Linked DNA regions of Homo sapiens: all the other regions are linked to region 1. The links come from fine-mapping of genetic effects on gene expression. A gene starts in region 1. Each other region holds a variant in brackets. All regions are shown on one strand. Distances are between the middles of the regions.

Region 1 (5,268 bases):
GGTGATTGTCCTTAAAAGATGGGCTGGGGCCTCCCTGAGGTACAGAATTGTCCTTGCTGGCTTGATGTAGTAAGCAGTCTGCTGAGGAAGCCCACATGGGAAGGGATGGAGGTGACTTCTAGAAGCTGAAGGCAACTCCAGCCAACATCCAGCAAAAATGTGGGGCTGTCAGTTATATGGTTATGAGGAAAATAATTCTGCAAACAATCTGGATGAGCTTGGGATCAGATCTTCTCCAGCTGAGCCTCCAGATAAAAACAGCCTAGTTGACACCTTGATTGCAGTCTTCTGAGACCCAGAGCCAAGGATCCAGCTAAGCTGTGCCTAGACTCCTAACTCCTGGGAACTGTGAGATAATAAATGATTAATTGTTTTAAGTTACTTATTGTGTTACTCCATTCTCACAATGCTATAAAGAAATACCTCATACTGAGTAATTTATAAAGAAACGAAGTTTAATTGACTCACAGTTCTGCAGGCTATATAGGAAGCATGACTTGAGAGGCCTCAGGAAACTTACAATCATGGTGGAAGATGAAGGGGAAGCAGGCTGTCTTACACAGCTGGAGCAGGAGGAAGAGAGAGGGTGGGAGGTGCCACACACTTTTAAACAACCAGATCTCCTGAGAACTCTATCAGGAGAATAGCACCAAAGGAAGAAATCTGTCCCCGTGATCCAATCACCTCCTACCAGGCCCCAATTCCAACACTGGAGATTACAATTCAACATGAGATTTGGGTAGGGACACAAATCCAAACCGTATCACTAATGTTGCAACTTCTTTTTAGAAACAAGATGAATCCCACTTACAATTTGGTTTGGAAGTCAAGAATAACAGTGCCATACATATATCAAGAGCTTAGGAAAAGTTTTATTATTGATATATTCTCAAGGTTTTTTTGGGAGGACAGAAAATGCCTCCTAAGCTGGTCTAAAAGTTATTTAAGAGGGCAAGTGTTCTGGGCTGAATTGTGTACTTCCCTCTTCTCCCAGCCAAATATATACATTGAACTCTTAACCCCCAGTATGTCAGAATGTGGCTATATTTGGAGATAGAGTCTTTAGGGAGGTAATTCCAGTTAAATTAGGTCATTGAGGGTGGGCCTTAATCCAACACGACTGGTGTCCTCATAAGAAGAGGCAATTTAGATATGGAAAGGTACACAGGAGGATCATGTAAAGACACAGGGAGAAGATGGTCCCACAGTGGCTCCACAAGAAACCAACTCTGCTGACTTGTGGCCTCCAGAATTGTGAGAAAACAAATTTCCATTTAAGCCACCCAATCTGTGGTAGTTTTGTTCCTGGACCAAACTGAGGGTCAGGCTGCTATTTCTTGCTGCCAATAATGAGATGTCGATGAACTGGGGATGAAGAAAGTTTTTATTTCTGTAACCAGTTACAGGCAGAAGGCCTGGAAATTATCACCAGACCAACTCAAAATTACAAAGTTTTTCAGAGTTTATATACCTTATAAGCTATATGTCTACATGTAAGTGTACATTCCTCTGAAGATATAAATGTTTCTTTATCAGCATTTGGAACATGCCAGGCAAATAGTAAACACTCAATATCATCTACCATCAGCCTCAGCCTGGGGCCTCACACCCATCTTCTTTTATCTAAAATTCTGAATTAGCTATGAATATTCTCATTTTACGAATGAGGAAAGAAATGTGATCTGAGCTAATGCCTTGTGTCAACAGGTATATTACACTAAGATGGAGAATGATATACTGAATCTGTGTTTGCCTTTAACGTGTGTTTAACTTCGAGAAAAAAGCCAAGGCTGGGCGGTCGCAGTCACGCTGCATCCGGCGACAGGGGGCGGTGTGTCCTGCGAAAAGTCAAAACGCCGGAAGCTGCCCTTAGTGTTTTTCAGCCTCTTGGTCTTAGGGAAAGTGAGGCCGTGTTTTACATCCAACATATTATTATTCTGATAATATGTGACTTGGCGCCACGCGCACTCTGCACTTAAACACGCACTTAAGGGATAAACACATACGACTGAAAAAGAGTTTCGCCCTTGATAGGCAGTGTATGGGGTGCGCAGCTGCAATCTGCAAACCCTTGCAGGGCGCGGGGTTTCGTACACCCGCTCAAGGACGCAAAGAACCTCCATTCTCTGCCATACAAAGCACTCCTGGCCCAGAGAGCAGGAAAGAGCATCAGCTAGGCCCAGCTAGGCGGCGCCCTCGGCCGGACTCTGAAGGTCAGGGCCGCTGGGCGTCCACGCCGCCTGGGTCCCAGTCCCCGTCCCATCCCCCGGCGGCCTAGGCAGCGTTTCCAGCCCCGAGAACTTTGTTCTTTTTGTCCCGCCCCCTGCGCCCAACCGCCTGCGCCGCCTTCCGGCCCGAGTTCTGGAGACTCAACATGAAGCTACCGGCCAGGGTTTTCTTTACTCTGGGGTCCCGGCTGCCCTGTGGCCTCGCTCCTCGGAGGGTAAGGCGGCCGGGGGCGCGGGGAGCGAGGACAGGGCGTCTCGACGCGCAAAGAGAGAGGACAGGGCGTCACGGGGGCTCGGGGAGCGAGGACAAGGCATCCTGGGGCGCAAAGAGAGAGGACAGGGCGTCCCGGGGGTTCGGGGAGCGAGGACAGGGCATCCCGAGGCGCAGAGAGAGAGAGGACAGGGCGTCCCGGGGCCTCGGGGAGCGAGGACAGGGTGTCCCGGGGCTCAAAGAGAGAGGACAGGGCGTTCTGGAGCGCTAAGAGAGCACAGAGCAACCCGGGGAGCGAGAGAGAGGACAGGACGTCTCGGGGCGCAAGAGAAAGGGCAGGAAGTCTTGGGGCACAAAGAGAGGACCCGGCGTCCCTGGGGCTCAGGGAGCTAGGACAGGGCGTTTTGGGGCGCAGAGAGAGAGGACCACCAGGTCCCGGAGCGAAGGGCAACGCCGGGAGTGAGCACCGGGGCCCGGGTCGTATTCCACTGTCAGATGAAGCCCTGATGTGTGTAGGGGAATAGGGAAGAGACGTGATTTTCGAAGTTTTCACAGTTCTGCAAGTTTCCAACTTGTGTGTAAATAGGTAGAAAGAGGTAGGGAAGGATACGGCGCCCGTCCACCCCTTAAGGAGTGAGAGGGGATCAGGCCGAGCGAGCACTGACCTTTGACGTCCTTTGTTGTGAGGAAAGTCCATCTATGTGTTAGTTATGGAATTAAACACTAATACAAACAAATTATCATAAAAATGAAACAAAAACAAAACCCCAGCTGTTTATAGACTCCCCTTCCCAGATGTATAGCTGGGAGAGGTCCGTCTCACACTGGCTTCCCCCTCTCTCTGGCCCACACTCCTGTCACCATCTCCATTGCACCCATAGTGGAAATAGCTAGGAAGTGAAAACAGCTAGGAAGAAGAAAGAGAAACAAAAACAAAAAGAAGCAATAATATCCAAGACAAGCCCTCCCCACATCTAAATTACAAAATTGTTATAAGTAAACTAAAAAGCACATTTTCTTTAGCCAGGTAGAAAAATTAATATGTCAACTGTGAAAAAACTTCTTTTGATTTGATAGAATAGACAGCCATGGTGTTGTTTTTCAAAAAATATGGGCAGCAGTAGTTCCAAATAGGAATACAAAGAATTAGTATGGTGGTTCCCTCAAGTAAGGTATCTTTCTTTTAAAAAGTGAGATTTGTTCAGGGTTAGGGTTTTGCTGATTTTTTTTCTCTCCCTGTGAAAACTGGGTTATAGATCATTATAAAGGAAGCCCATATTTTCTGATACTTTTCAGAGACATTTCTCATTTGAAATCTACAACAGCTCTGTGATGTCTTCAGAGATTTCATTTTTTAACACACATCATTAGGATTGTAGCAATAAGGTCATACAGACCTTATCCAAGCTCTTCTGACACCATTAGACAATACAGTTTGAGAAGGAGAAAATGAACTCATTTAAAAATTAATTGTAATCTGACAATTTTGAAATTCCTTTGCTGAAGAAAAATATGGAAGTTTTGAGGTTCAGGGTTGGGAGGCAAGAGAGGTACCTGTTAGTGTGGTTTGTCCCCTTCCTAGCACATGTAGCCTCAAGTTTGAATTCCTGGGAGAAGAAAAGTCTTTACATCTGTGATGTGGGAGGTTGTTCCAGGGAACATCATGTTTTTGTGGGCAAATACAAGTTGTTATAATTAAAACCCCTAATTTGAATATTTTTGTTACCAAGAACCAAGGCAAATGTTTAATTTGTTATAAAACCTGTTTGTGAAGTGCTGTGTTAAATTGTGCTGCTGGCTAATAGGCCTCATTTCAATTTAATAAATATTTATTGAGGACTGGCTTTATGTCTGGCCCTGTGCTATGCCCTGGGACTCAAAATTTAAAAAATACGAGCCCTGCTCTCAACTGTTCTCAAGTTGCTCTCAGTTCTATTGAGGAAAACATTCAGTCATTCAGTTGTTTATGAGGAAACACTAATTAATTAAGTACCTATTAAGTATTGGGCATTCTTTGGCAATTTGTGGTTGAAAGACATTCCTGCCTTCAATGTACTATAGTCTCATATATGTATTTTAAGCCACAAATAATAACCAATGAGTAGGCCTTGAAATCAATTTAGTGGAGCAAAACAGCACTTTGGGAGGCTGAGGCGGGTGGATCATTAGATCAAGAGATCAAGACTATCCTGGCCAACATGGTGAAACCCTGTCTCTAGTAAAAATACAAAAATTACTGGGTGTGGTTTCACACGCCTGTAGTCCCAGCTACTTGGGAGGCTGAGGCAGGAGAATCGCTTTAACCTGGGAGGCAGAGGTTGCAGTGAGCTGAGGTCGCGCCACTGTAGTCCAACCTGGCGATAGAGTGAGTGAGACTCCATCTCAAAAACAAAAAAATGGAATAGAATAGGATATATCTAAATTCATCTCATGTAGTAAGGTTGTTCATTTTGTGAAACTTTAAAAAAAAAATTTACCATTCTTCCTTTTTTGATTCATTCTTTGATTACTATCATGCACACTGCCATGTTTCTTTTCCTTTTGTTTTTATCAAGAGTAATAACTATCCAACCTGATCAACATGGTGAAACCCTGTCTCTACTGAAAATATAAAAATTAGCCGGGCGTGGTGGCGCGTGCCTGTAATCCCAGCTACTCAGGAGGCTGAGGCAGGAGCTACTCAGGAGGCTGAGGCAGGAGAATCACTTGAACCTAGGAGGCAGAGGTTGCAGTGAGCCAAGATCACGCCATTGCACTCCAGCCTGGGCAACAAAGTGAGATTCTATCTCAAAAAGAAAAAAAAAAAAAAGAATAGTAACTATCAAGAGT
Region 2 (5,000 bases), 31 kb before region 1:
CATTGCACTCCAGCCTGGAGTGAAACCATGTCTCAACATCCCCCCACCAAAAACCCAAAAAACCATATTGTAACAGGGGCCAAGTGTCACCTCATGATCAAGGCACCAGGGTCTGAGCTACCTGGTACTCCAGCTACTTTTTTTTAACCTCAGGGTGTCAATATGTGCTGAAAGTAAAGAGCCTGGACTCCAGAATCCAACTGCCTGGGCTCACATCCTGGCCACCCTGCTCACTGCCTCTGCTATATGCAAACCCCCTTCTGCCTCAGTTCCCTCATCTGCACAGTGAGGACCACAACAGTAAATAATATATAGGTTGAGGATTAAATGTTTATACATACATAAATTCTTAGACCAGAACCTGCTATGTAGGATAATTTTTTTTTTAATGTATTACTGCTGTTGCTCTGCTTGGCACATTCTTTGTCTGGCTCTTTGAAAAACTGGTCATAGGTAAGACATTGCCTAAAAGAGGCCTTCTCTGTTTAGAATAAGCTTCTTCCCCACTGCCGGGTTACTGCTTCCTTTATATACATGTGTAATGATTTGTTTACTTGTCTTTCTCTGTCTCTGCCTCTAGACAGTAAGCTCCAGTGATGGCAGGGACTGTGACTATCTTGTTTTTCATTATATTTCCAGTGCCTAAAACACAATGGAACTACAGTAAATTTGTGTTGTAGTAATAAGATAGTATTTTTGTTATATAGTATATCTTCTTTTTTACAGTAGTTAATATATCTCAATTAAGTAAAATATTTATAGGATAGATGACTAAAATTTTACTTTTTATTTCAGCAAGCCTGTAAGAGAAAAAAAGAAAATCCCCCCATGGTCAGAAGGACTCCTGGGACAGGAAGAATGAATCTTTGGTAGGAAGCTGGCTGTGGACTTTTCAGGCATATAAACACTTTAGTCCTCACCTACTTTTTGCCACATGAAGAGCAATTTAGTCAGAAGACTGCCAAGCCATATATTTCTACAATACTTACTGGCTTCAACAATGCTAAGATTATTAATGCAAATTAAAGTCTAAGAAAAATCCTTCAGTTAGCTCTTTTACAGTCTCCCTCCACTCTACAAACATCATTTCAACCTATCTGACTTTTTGTCTGCTTTCCCATAATAGCCTATATAAGGATAGGAATGTTTATATGTCTTTCTAATGGGTAATAACCATCAAAGGGCAAATACATTTCAACGCTAGGCAATTGCAGAAAACCTTTTACCGTTGAGTTTTAAGTTTCTCAAATGCAACATATTCTGTAAAAAAACTTAACACTACTTTGTTAATTTACAGAGGTAAATTCTACAAATTCTATTAAAGTAACAAAAAAGCATAAAATATTTTTGAGTAAAACTGTCATGAATAAAGATATTCTATATCTAATATACCAAGTCACAATTAATTTTCAAGTATACTACACTATAAAACCTTTTATTAATTCTTGTATCGGCCGGGCGCAGTAGCTCACGCCTGTAATCCCAGCACTTTGGGAGGCCGAGGTGGGTGGATCATCTCAGGATGGGAGTTTGAGACCAGGCTGGCCAACATGTTGAAACCCCATCTCTACTAAAAATACAAAAATTAGCTGGGTGTGGTGGTGCACACCTGTAGTCCCAGCTACTAGAGTGGCTGAGGCAGAGGATCGTTTGAACCCAGAAGGCAGAGGTTGCAGTGAGCTAAGATTGTGCCACTGCACTCCAGCCTGGACAACAGAGCAAGACCCTGTCTCAAAAAAATAAAAAATAGGCCAGGCACGGTGGCTCATACCTGTAATCCCAGCACTTTGGGAGACTGAGGCAGGAGGATCACCTGAGGTCAGGAGTTCAAGACCAGCCTGGCCTACATGGCAAAACCCTGTCTCTACTAAAAGTACAAAAATTAGCTGGGTGTGGTGGTGGGTGCCTATAATCGCAGCTACTCAGGAGACTAAGGCAGGAGAATTGCTTGAACCCAGAAGGCAGAAGTTGCAGTGAGCCGAGATCGTGCCACTGCACTCCAGCCTGGGCAACAAGAGCAAGACTCCGTCTCAAAAAAAAAAAATTCTTGTATCTACTTTTACATTGTTAGGTGAAAAGCAACAAAAAAGGTTAAACATAAAATCTCCTACTTGCAGTTTTTTACTAATAAAGAATAATTCTATACCTTTGGAGCATATCCATTATTGACTGAATCCATTTCTTCTGACAGTCAGGAATTAAGGTCTGTGAGTTTGTTATTCCTGTATCAACAACACACGTTCCCGGAGCCAAAAAGAAATTATGTTCTTCTTCATTCTCTTCTGTTATCAACCTAGCTTCCCCACCTCCAAAGACAACTGCGGAACTCAATTTCTTATGCTAAAAATGGAAGGAAACATTTTTTAAAGTAAAATGTAGTAATTTTTTGAACACATAAGAATTTGATTTGGGAAACATAGAAGTACAATTCAAGAAGACTTGGTGCTACTTCTTGAGTAGGTCATTTCAGCTTCCACTTTGAGAAAGTCCCTAGTTCAACAGGTCTCTGCGGCCCTGGAACTGTTACACTCTCTGTGGTTCCTCATCACACTTCCTAACAGCACTCTAACTGTGGGCTTATCTGCATTTCTCCACTACAACATAAACTCTTGGAAACCCCACTTTGGTACACAGAACATATTCAACTGATTTAACTTCTTTAGTGAGCTTACTAACTAAAGAGGTTTAGCTTACTAACTAAAGAAGTTAAAACTAAGTTTCCTGTCCTTCTCACTTGCATATTTATGAATAGGCCAGTTATCACAGATTTTAAGAAACCCCGTAATCACAGCCATGATCACTGGGC[A/G]GGTCTGGTGCCTGGGGTTTTTTTATTCTACTTCACACTTTTACACAAAATCCCAAAATGAAATACGTTAACAACTACTGATAAGAGTTAATAATGTATCCTAGTTTGTAATGTATTCTTTAGGAAAATTTAGCTTATAACATAATTACCTGTTTGGCATTCAAAAATATAAATGTTTTCCCTTTGAAGATTTGTTTTCTTTCCTGCCGTCCTGACAGATCAACATTTTTACTTCCAATAGATGGTTCATCAAGAGGTGGGTAAAAACTGTAAAAATAATTAAAGTATATTCTAATTATATACTACTATGTTTGCTATTAAATTGTAAACGGAGTGACTATCTGACACTCAAAAGGCATAATTTCCATAATACCTTTATAGTATTTTTTTTAAGTAAGAATTTTATCTGGGACAAAATGACAAAAAGCATCTAATCGCGTTTTCTAGAAATATGGTGGCAGGTGACACAAAGAAGAGCTAGAATTGATCATTAATATCTCAAAATAAATAATCCAAGGTAGACAATCATAACAGGATGAACATTAAACACACATGACTCAAACAAGGTGTCTGAATTACAAAAGTTTGAGAGAAACATCATCCATAAAGATCAAATTCTATTAGCATCTTGTGTTTACTTAGGAGCCAATATCTATTAAAACGCTCATGTTTCAATTCTACTAGCACAATCTATTATGAGTGTTTTGTTAGAGATCTCTTTGGAGAAGTTCAGGAAATTTTTAAACTTACATTATTTACTCAGTTCAAATAAAATTTCCAAAACAAGACTAAAGAATATAATGTTTTAGCTCTTTAATTTAATGCTATAAGAACATCTTAATCATCCATGAAAATAAAGGAAAATAAGAAATGGAGAAATATCAACAGATAATTCTTAAGCCTCTCATCAGTCTAGAGTTTCAACTTCCTGTATAATCAGATCTTTTGCTACAGCTGTTCATAACTGACCGGCATTTCGACTTGTCTCTCTTCCTTTCAGTAAAAATTACTAACCCATGATGATGATGATAAGGGGACAATGTAGGGAGGGAGAAATTCACAACCTGGACAATCAGTCACAAATCAAGAGTTAACTATCTGCAGAGATCAACATCCAACGTGGTAAAAACACTGCAGTCATTAAGAGTCACTATCCAGCACTTTAGAACTAATTACCTTACATCTTTCCCCTGGACTTCTCCTTGGAAACATACATATTTCATAAAGTAAAGCTAAGTTATGATTGAAGAGTTACAATACTTTAAAATTTTTTTGATAACTGATGCATGTATTTTAATTTCACTACAATAGATGCTGTAAGTCTGTTTTAAAGCAATGATTTCTGGAAGCTGCAATCTCAAATGAGTTATCTGCAGGCAAGAGCAGACTCACTTGGCAGGACAGAATGCAGGCAACTGCGTTAGTTATGGTTTTTCTAAACAACCGACTTTAAAATTCTATTTATTTTACTTTTAAAATATACAGAGAACAGTGGAAACTATTTTAACTGTTAACAAAAACTAAATCTACAATAAGAGCACTGGAAAGTTAGTAGACATTCGGACACATAAAAAGGATCAATTTTAATATCTCTTTGAATCCTTTTTATCCTTTATCTCCTAATAAATATTCCCCCATAACTTATACTTCTTTCTTAGTGTAAAAGCCAACTAACACTTTACTTATATACAAATAACTAGTTTACCAATTAGTTCACACAATAATGTAACAACACTAGGACAGATTACAGAGCCAGTTACAGACAAAAACAGTAAGGAAATGTTTAACACATATGACTGTGTGTTACAGTCAAACATGACTATAAAACTATGACTGAGTAGATGTGAGATTCTTCCTGCTTTCCCAAAACACTAAAGTTGAATGATTTTTAAATTATCTACAGCTTTCTATTATTCACACTGTCATTCTTAATTATGCCATAGATAACAGTTTACAGTAGCCAGGGAGCAGCTAACTGTAGCTTAGTTCGATGAAGTTTGAGCCAGGTTCCTAAACATATGTGTATGGTAGCCTGTTAGGCCTCTCTAATGGCTCTACCAGAGTTCTAACTTTATTAGTGTCATTCTTTAACAGCTGGCTTCTCCACTAAGTGCCATGAGGGCAGAAACTGTAACTTTTTTTGGCTCATCATTATATCCACAAGTCTATCTTGCCTGCTTCACTGTAGGCATTC
Region 3 (5,268 bases), 120 kb after region 1:
TTTGAAGTGCCACATTTATAATACAAAGGTTTTCATACATTTATGGATCTCTATTTTATCTTTTACATCTATTTGTCTTTTTCTGTGCCAATGACATATTGTTTTAATCACTATAGCTTTTTATAAATCTTGCTGTTCAGTAGAACAAATTCTCACTTATTTTTCTTTGTCTACAGTGTCTTGGTCATTCTCACAAATACATTCTTCCTTAGGAAATTAATAATCAGTTTGGTAAGTTCCATTCTCCCCATTATTTCTATAGGGAACTACAGTGCATTAAATTTATAAATTATGTTGGAAAAAACTGACATCTTTACAAAATTGAGTCTTCCCATCTAAGAATCCGTATGTCATGAACTTTATTTAGAAAGTCTTTTTATGCCCTTCAGTAAACTTTTATAGTGTTCTTCACAGAGATTTTATAGTGGTATAGTTTTTTTTTAGGTTCATGTTTAGGAATAATATAGTTTTTATTTTTTATAGGACTATGAATAGGGCTGTTCCATTCAAACATCTGATTATTGCTAACGGGATTTACTAATTTTGTGTACTAATATTGTAATTTAGTCATCTACTACGCTTTGTTATTGCTAAGTTCTTCATTTGGTGCTCTCAATTTTCTTGGATAGATAATTATATCATTTGCAAATCCTGATAATTTGCTTGCTTGCTTTCCTATATTTACCTCTCTTCTTTTTCTTGACTCATTGTGTTGACTGGAAACTTCAGAGCAATGTCAGGTAATGGAAGTGACAGCAAATATTCTCGTTTTCTCTTTGACTTGAATAGAAGTGCCTCATTTTCACCATTAGAGATGATGATGCTTTCTTTTTTCTGTTAGTCTGAATCACTTTAAGGAAGCTCTATTCATAATACAGGGATAGATATATTTTATGACTTTCTATCATCTATAGAAACAAATGTATGGTTTTAATCTATTGACATATCAATATAACAAACTAAAGTATTAGATTTCCTAAATTGTGTAATCCTTGTTTTCTTGGAATAAAGTCAGCTTGGTCATGTGGTAATAGGTTTTTGATATAATTTTGGATTTGATTTTCTAGCATTTTCATTAGAATGATTTTCATTGCACTCTCAAATGATATCACTTTATAGTTAGTGTGTGAGTGCATGCTTACACGTAGACATGCAAATTTGACTAGTTTTTAGAATTAAGGTTATAGTAGTTTCATAAAATTAATGAAGTCTTCTTGGTTTGCTGCTGTATGGGAAAGGCAGATCTTTGATAATATTCTCCTTTATTCAAGTCATTATATCAAACTTGCCATTTGTTACTCACATCTCCTTTCTCTATCAAATTCTCAGGGAGGTCTGCCAAAATTTCCAGTTGTGCTTGTGGTTTTCTTTCTTGCATTGATTATAGTTTTTTCTTATAAATTTTGACTAATTGTTTGGAGCAGAAGTGTAATCTCAGCTTGGCTTGCAGGATTTCAAGGGCAAGTCATTTCTAGGAAGTGTAGGTAGCGGCATGGGGAATTGGTAAAGAGAAGGTAGGAAAGCCAGTAAAGGATGCGTTAGCAAGCATTTGTCATTTTGAGCAACTGCAGCTTAATCACTCTGGGACAGTTGTGGGAGCCAGTGTAGAAAACACATTTCAGAGTTATACTGTCCAAAGAATGAGAGAGCTGGTGGATTTACGGACCTTCTCTTATTATTTAACTTGTTGAAGGCTACCAGGGGTAGGGCCTGCTTCATCTGTAGTCTGAATGGGCTCTGGCAGAGAAAGATAGCATTAATTTTTTTTTTTTTTAATTTCAGTTGAAGTCAGGCCCACATAGGGGAGAAACAACATCTGCTACCAGCTTTCACAATTTTAATAGGTTTGTAATGCTTTGTACTTATAATTCATTCATTCGTTTCTTGAGTAAATGTTCACTTTCACTCAAGAGTGATAGTTTGACATATCATACATAATTCTAGGATCATAATCCTTTTCTTGAAGAATTTCTCAAGTTTTGATTCATAAACTTGGTTTTCAGAGCAATACTCTTTCTGCTAATCATTGCTTCTATTGATTTATCTAATCTGTCAATCAATTTTCTAATTATTAAAAAGTGTTCTCCTTTTGCGCTCTTTTGTAGCAGTTTACTCTCAAAAAAGCAATATTATTTTTTTCAAATCTCATTGAGAATTCTAATTAGAACTTTTTTAAAGTTCTGTCCTGTTTCCAGAATTAGCATATTCACTAGTAGTTATTTCTTCTGATCACCCAGTGTGGTCAATTTCTTTTTTTGCCTTCTGTATTTTCCCCCCACATTTTTGGGAAACTTCTGTTGTCTGGTCATTATTAATAATGATTAAAACGATGAATTTAGATTAATTGATAATAAATGTTGGCAGGCATGCTGTCCCTTGGCAGCTATGTGGATTAGTAGTTATAGACTGTGTGTTTTCAAAGAGAATAAGATTTTTTAAAATTGTGCAGACATAATATTGTCAATTTTTAAATTTGCAGTATAAGTTAATTGAGAAGCTTCTATCTACTATTATCACAGATTTATAAAAGAAAGAACATCTTAATTTCTCTGAAGTAGGAAAATATAAAGTACAGTCTTAAATAGAAATCTGGCGGTATACATATGTAAGGGCAATGATCTTTATTTTCTCACTTCCATACAGATTAATGGCAGCTTTTTCTCTTGTGGGCATTGGGAGACAATGTAGTCTAATTTTTGCCCTCGGCCTCATCTTACACTTGCCCACTTCAAGAGTAGTTGTGGATATTTTCAGGTGGCAAAACTCCACTTTATTTTGTGTGCTGTCCATACCAAGGGACCCCTGAGTGCAAACACTGTGGCCACACCCTTTATCTAAGGGGCCCTGGTGGGTGTCCTGAAATCCTTCAATTTAGTCTCTCCAGTTGCATCCCAAAGCCAGTTTTGGTCAGGAAAAGTACTCTCTTGACTTCATAATTTTTTTCTGCAGTCTCTT[C/T]CATCAGCTAGGGAATACTACCCTTGAAAATGTTTTCCATTTCCCTTTTGTGACTCAGCCTTAGGCTTATAAGTGACAGTTTACTCTCTAGGTTCGGTCAAATATTTATTGCTCTTTGTTAATAGTTTTTAGAGTTGTCACATGAATGGGGCCTTTCTTGGCTTTAGCATTGTTGAAAGAATATTAGGTTCCCTTTGTTTATTTTGGTGGATATTGTTGAGGTGTTTTTACATCCTGTAGCCACTTTTACAAGTTACCTAGATTTGGCCTTCACAGTTACCACGAATGAATGTAGTAGATATTTTAGGTAATCAGTAGGAAAGAAAAGAGAAAGGAAACTTACTGTTATTGAATTACTACTGGGCACAGGAACTGTTAGAATTTTTAATTCTTCTGAAACTCTGTAAGGTAGTCATTGTTGAGGTAGGAATTATTACCTTTGACAGAGGGAGAAATAGTGGCTCAGAATGTTTAAGTACCTTGTTTGTCATGTAGTTAATTAGAGGCAGAACTTGGATAGAACATAGGTCTGTCTGGCTCCTCAATCCATATATTTTTTCAATACTTCACTACTTTTTCTAATGAATTTATTGAGCAGCCCTAATTCTTTACTGCATATTTAATGAGGACCCAGCCAAATAATTATTAATGACTTACTTGAAAGCTATTTTTTAAATAAGGTTTGGCTATCTTAGGTTCTTAATCAGAAATACTGATCAAATTTTTTCTTTCATTACAGCTCCTAGCACAATAATGATTTAAAACCAATGGGATGTTTTCAGTTATTTTTAAAAAAAATTCATGGAAACTGTAAGCTCTGTTCTTAGAAAAATTTACATACACACAAAATTTTATCCATACTTTCAGGGACTTCAGGAATTCAGGATGTCTGTCAATGTATCCCAGGATAAAATCTTGTCTTAGAAGAAAGGGATGGTCACATTTGGTCAGTTTTTTTTGTATGACATAATGTCGACCTTGAGACTAAATGTTTAATGATATATAAGGCTCTTTCTGAATTTAAGAGAAGATATTCTTGGATCCTGGTAGCTAACAGAAAATGTAACTTTCAAGACCTTTTTTTTTTTTAAATACAGTACATAATATGTTCTGTCTTTTGGAGACAAACTGTGTGTGTGTGTGTATGTGTGTAAAACATTTTTCATATATTTATAATATTTTATCAAATTTATTTTTTTACTCTTTTTTACTCTTACTTGGGTTCTCCAAGCTGAATACCTGGCCTTTCCTTAAGGCTTTATCTCCTGGGCCTTATTGGTCCTGAATGTTTACATGTTAAATGATAGTTGAATTTGAAGACCATGCAGATAGTTCATTGTGATTCAATAATTTATTTGCTAGTTTGTCTCCCTATTTGGAGAAGAATGTCAGAAAGCCAATCCTTGCACATTGTTTCTCATGGAATGAAATAGTCTGATATTTTTTATGCATGTATCTGGATTTGTAAAAACTATTGTGTAGGATTTGTAAAACAAACTCTCTTCAGACTGTTTTTGGCTATGTGATGAAAAAAATTATTATTTGTTTTAATGGATAAGAATAATGTTTTGATCTTTATTCTATTAATTTGTGAGTCAGGTTATATAGGCCATGATTGACATATTGTTCTTGATTAAAATTCCTTTAACACATTGAAATATTTCAATGTATGCTGATGATAGTATGTTAATGTAACATTGATAAGTTATTGGATAAATTCATTTTTTCACTATTTCTTTGAATGTCAAGCAGTACTTTCAATGGATAGTGGCCACACATAACTGATGTACTTAAGAATTTATGAAATCAGGCTCTGCAGCCCAATCTGAGGTGAGATGTAGGGAAGTTGGACAAGGGACTGAATTTATGTGATGTAAAAACATGACCCACCATAAGCCAGAATGTTGTTCTGACTTTTGTTTAGACTGAACAATATTTTAAACATTATAGGAATTTGTTCTGAACCTGTAAAAGTTGGGTGGTTTTATAGAAAATTCAGGTTTTGCCTTTCATTGGAGAATCAGAAGATCTGACGTCACTAGGCTCAAATTCAGTAGCAGAGTGAATGTAGTTTCCTTTTTGCCCTCCTAATAAAGAGACTGAATTTCAGTTGCCATATATTATTGCATTTGTATTGTCATGTTCTTTTGCAGAAAGAAAGATGATTTCTTTTACAAATACCTTATCAAAGAGAGAAAACAAATAATAATCTAAGAGGAGAGCATATGGCAGAGAGCATATTTCTTTCCAAAAGTGAAGATTATTCCTATCTGTTTAATATACAAAATGTGTTTTTTTTTTAAAAATACAGCT
Region 4 (5,000 bases), 61 kb before region 1:
ATATAGTGAAACAAAATTACATCTTATCTTTTCATATTTTCTAATAGGGATAGCAAAACATAAATGGGAAGACATCATTTTAATAAAACAGCTGTCAAAATAACTACTGGCAACATTTTTCTAAACATTCTTAGAGGTTGCCTGGGGAATAAAGTTGTAGCATAGTAAGGAAAAACCACTGAGGAGAAAGCAGTTTTATTTCATATATTTCAGTAAAAACATATAAAATAGTATTAAGAAACAGAAATGCCTCATATTACTGGCATTTTTCAGAGGTCTGAGATAACTACTACTCACAGTCTTTCAAATTCAAATCAGGTTGGATACAGTTCAAATAATTTTTATGTTTGATGTACACAATGAAAATATCCTAAATTCAAGGGAACTTCAGGAACTGACGCAGTGATTATGAAAATCAAGACTGGTGGGTCTGCAGCAGAGGTAGAGAAAGAAGGGATGAAAAAGAAAAATAGGGAGGGAATATAGAAAAAGAATAGCTGCAGCAAACAGGGAAATGAGATGGCAGTACAGAACATTTACATAAATAAGCAGTAGCCATGCAGCAAAAGCAAGTCAAGTCTGTTATAGAGTAAGTCCTACCAATAGCAACTAAAATGATTCTAGCAAAAAGAGAAGTGATTTGGTGAAATCATCTAGAACACAGTCCATCTAATTCCTAATGAAATAAGCAAAAAAAAAATAGAAAAAAGTCAGCAGCTGTATGATGTATCATCATTCTCTCAACTTCTCCCATCTAAAATTAATCAAACAAAACTCGACAGTGTTAATTAATCAAGGAGAAGAGTTTAAGCCATGCCATACGCTTAAAAAGTGCAGCTGTAAAAAGAACCAAATGATTCTGATGCAGCTGATTCCTAATACTGTCTCAATCCATTAAAAGTGCTACACAACTGGTCAAACCTGAGGATTCTTACTAATGCCCCAAATTTGGGGAAAAGGTAACCTGAACAGGGAAAACAACTGCCAGTGGGCTGCTGGGAAGGGACTAATGGTGTAGAAGGTAAAGAAGCAGGGCTGACACTGACCAAACACATAGGCTCCAAGGATCCCTAACAAATTAGGTAAACAACCTAATAATGCTAGGTTATTCTCTTTTATATAGGGCACACTCCCTGGTATAGGACATTTAATTAAAATCCCAGGAGACAGCTAGCCCAAGCTGCACACAGCTCCAGCTGAGCCTTTCCTCTCCCAGATTCAATGTCTTCAGACAACAGAAACTAGATGGGATATGCCATGTGCCACTGACTGTTTCAGCATAATGCCATACTGACAGTGAGGCATGAGGGAATTCTGTTCTTTAATTTTTATTTTATTTATTATTATTATTTTTGAGATGTGGCCTTGCTCTGTCACCAAGGCTGAAGTGCAGGGGCTCAATCATGGCTCACTGCAACCTTAACCTCCCAGGCTCAAGCAATCTTCCCACCTCAGCCTCCTGAGTAGCTGGGACTATGGGCACATGCACTACCATGACCCGCTAATTTGTTGTGTTTTTTTGTTTGTTTGTTTAATTTTCATTTATTTATTTTTTTGTAGAGACAGGGTCTCAAGATGTTGTGCAGGCTACTCTTAACTCCCGGGTTCAAGTGATCCTCCTGCTCCCAAAGTGCTGGGGTTATAGTCATGAGCCACACCATTGTGCCTGGCTGAATTCTGTTCTTATGGGCAAGACAAGAATGTTAGAAGTAATTTTGATTATACTGAATTTCTGTCTCACAAACTGGCTTCTGAATGTAATCCCTGCATGAGATGGCATATGATCCTTTATGTAGCAAACAGAATATCTGGAAAAGACATTTCCCTTTACTCAAGTGAAGGCAAAAAACAGAAAAGCTACTCCATCTACTAGAGGAAAAAAAAAAAAAGGGATATTGGAACAGAACATGCAAAAAACAGATAAAGAACCTAATCTGCAGGAAATAATAATCCACGAATAAAAAGTAAAATAGAAACATGAAAGCAATGAAATAATGACAAAAAATCAGATAATAGAACAATGAAATGAAAAAAGAACAAATGCTAAGTAAAAGAACCATAATAACAGCCTTTCAGAATTAAATTAGAAATAGCTAACACTTCCCA[C/T]TGTTATAAATGATTTATATGTAGTATCTGATTTAATCCTCATATGTCTGTGAAATAAAGGTACTATTATTATTCTCATTCTGCACAGATGGAAGCAGAGACATTAAGTAATTTGCCTAAGGTCACATACTTGGTGAGAAACATTATAGACACACCTGAAATGTAAAATTTTGATACAGTGAAAGAGCCTAAGAAAACCACAGTGAATGCAGAAAAAATAGATGTGGACGACAAAGGTAATCCAATGAAAGGATAGTTATGTCTTAAATGTCTTATAGAGAGCCCAGCAAATATAAAATATTTAAAATATATAATAGAAAAAAGTTCCTTGAGAAAGAGAATTACACCTGCAAATCAAAACAGCATACTATATGTCAGGAAAAACTAATGGAGAATGATCAACACTGAGATGTATTCTGAGTGTTACTGGCTTTCGAGCTTAAGAAAGATGACTGGTCATGCATGCAAGTCACCTAAAAAGGGAAAAACAGGACTGGCATAAGGTAAGGGAGGCTAGGTGGGAGGAAGTACTAATAATGTCCTCACTTTTCACTGTAGCGAGCCAACAAATAATTGTATGTGAAGTTAATATGAAGTTTAAAACTACCCATTCCGACTTACAGTGATTTTTATAGTTTTCCTCCTTAATATTAGACAGATCTCACAAAATAAAATATCTTGGAGGGAAGAAACATTTATAGAAATTCAGCAATGCCTTCAGTTTAACTTCCTCCTATCAATGTCTCTCTCTTCCTTCCCAGTCTGTCCCTGCCTCTCACTACTCCTCAATGAAGAGATGTCTGGAATATTGTTCACTTAACTGTTTAAATAGGTAATTTCTGGGCTTTAGGTTTTCACATCTTCATTCTTTGTGTACTGCCATAATTCTGTGGAATGCACATGTTACAAAATAAGCCAATTATTCTTTCAAAAAAGAAAAGGAGAAAGGATGTGATTTCCATTCTTTCATTTTTTAAAAATAAGTATCCTGAGTGACCTTAACAACTCTACTTTCATAAGTGACTTTCCTAAATAACCCTTATTTTAAAATAACTGAGAAAAAAGCACTTTTAAAAGTGAATTACACTATACCCACTATAAAGCAAAATAAGGAACCCTGAGAGGTTAGCAAGGACCACAGTCAGCTTTTGCCTTGCCCTATGAGTATCTGCAAGTCATGAAAAACCTGAACTCTGCTTTAATGTCTATACGGGGTATGAGTGATACGAAAGAAAACCCAAGATGTTGACTTTAATAAAAGACCCAGCACTAAAAGAAGAAAGAGAAATAAACCTTACAACACAGAAGGAGCTAGGAAAGAAACTTGCCCATCTTCATTCTGGCACTTAGTGAAGGAAATAAATAAAAATCTCATTTGAAGTTTCTAATGATAAGCCAGCCTTCATTCACTCCAGCTTCTGGTCCAAATATTAATACATACTAACTGTCTGGGTGATTCAAAGAATCACAAGGAGAGATTTTAATTTGAAGTGGTCTCATATTGGTAGAAGACTCGAAGATAGAAAACGTATCTTTTCTAGAGGAAATACATCTGAACTTAATACTCAAGAAAACCCTACAGATCGAGTTACAAAGAAAACAATCAGCTCATATTCAAAAATCACAAAGCACAAACTTGAAAACAAGGTACATAAGAGCAGAAAACAGATCAAACATTTTAGGTAATGGTATCATTAGGCAAATAATATAAAAGGGGAAGCTTGAAAAACAGCAAGGAACAAGAAGATTTAGAAAGAAATAAAACAGACTTCCAGTAATGAAAAAATAAATGAACGGATGCAATGCCAACTAGAGTTGAAGACAGTAGTAGTAAATCGGAAGATGATCTGCAGCAGTTGCCAAAAATATAACCCAGGGAAACAAAGAAATGAAATACACAGGAAAGACAAATGGAAAAGAAAATTTAACTTACGTTAAGTTGGAATTCCAGAAGGAGATAATGGGGAAAACAGTAAAAAGGTAACTAATATTCAAGAGAATGAATAAGAAATTTTCAGAATTGTTAAAACACAATCCCCAGATTTAAAAAGGCCAGTCCCTTGACATACATTTAAGTGATATATTTGTAATATCCTCCACATTCTTTTAGTTTCCCTTAAATTTTTGTGGCTTTTATCTCCCCCTTTTCATTAGGATGTAAACTGAATTTCTTAGGTCTCACCTTTTTTTTTTTTTTTAACAAAAATAAATTTAGTATTCTTTTAAAGAAGTGTTATGGAAGGGTATAGATTAATGCTCTGTAACTCAGGAATGCTCCTGAATGAATGACTTTATGTCACTTATTTTAATTTGGTTTTAAGAAGAATTTGCTTGAAGGCCACCATAATGGACCAAAGTGCAATTTAAGCAAGTTTCTGGGCCTCACTTCCTACTAACCTCCATTTCCTGCCTTAGCCACTCTTCTAGTTCTGTATTCTTTCGAGCATGATGAGCTATTAGATCTGATCCTCCAATGATGTGTGGAAGTTTTCCTGCTCCAGGATATGTGACCTATTGAATAATAAAAGTAGTACAGTAAATCATATTAACAAACAAAAATGACCATTTTTTTAAAAAGATTAAAAAGCAAAGATGGTAAATCATGCATAAGTGCCAAAGATGTTTATATTCTACAAATAAAAGTGAGAGCAGTAACTCTGTTCTAAACCCATCTGTTTTTGCCCTTCTTTTATAGCTATTACTATATACAGATCTGGACATGTCATGGGATTTATGTATTAAAAATAATTTAACACTTTTCATTTGGAGTTTTTATTTTAAAATGGCCTTACCTTATCATTTAACAATTAAAGCAACTCAAGATGAACACAAACACTACAATTCAAAGCACTGTATTTTGTTCTAATGACTTCAAAGCTTAAGCCCTTTCTAAT

Evidence for each region. PIP is the estimated chance that this variant, and not a neighbour inherited with it, causes the effect.
Region 2: its variant is fine-mapped to the expression of DECR1 in whole blood (INTERVAL, PIP above 0.99).
Region 3: its variant is fine-mapped to the expression of DECR1 in whole blood (INTERVAL, PIP above 0.99). The same link has a PIP of 0.9 or more in monocytes and neutrophils.
Region 4: its variant is fine-mapped to the expression of DECR1 in whole blood (INTERVAL, PIP above 0.99).

Annotation. Positions count from the first base shown.
Region 1 is chr8:89,999,119-90,004,386 of GRCh38, forward strand. DECR1 (2,4-dienoyl-CoA reductase 1) reads left to right here and starts at 2,359. Exons shown (of 10, transcript NM_001359.2): 1 at 2,359-2,443. The coding sequence starts at 2,375. RefSeq lists enhancers at 1,703-1,997, 2,846-2,985 and a silencer at 2,276-2,375.
Region 2 is chr8:89,968,218-89,973,217 of GRCh38, forward strand. NBN (nibrin) reads right to left here. Exons shown (of 16, transcript NM_002485.5): 6 at 2,956-3,073; 7 at 2,147-2,340. Among named protein-coding and RNA genes, the nearest start is that of NBN, 14 kb to the right of the region's middle. The variant A/G (reference allele first, on the strand shown) is at 2,807.
Region 3 is chr8:90,123,054-90,128,321 of GRCh38, forward strand. No RefSeq gene overlaps it. Among named protein-coding and RNA genes, the nearest start is that of CALB1, 43 kb to the left of the region's middle. The variant C/T (reference allele first, on the strand shown) is at 2,956.
Region 4 is chr8:89,938,750-89,943,749 of GRCh38, forward strand. It overlaps NBN (nibrin), which reads right to left. Exons shown (of 16, transcript NM_002485.5): 14 at 4,504-4,617. Among named protein-coding and RNA genes, the nearest start is that of OSGIN2, 39 kb to the left of the region's middle. The variant C/T (reference allele first, on the strand shown) is at 2,107.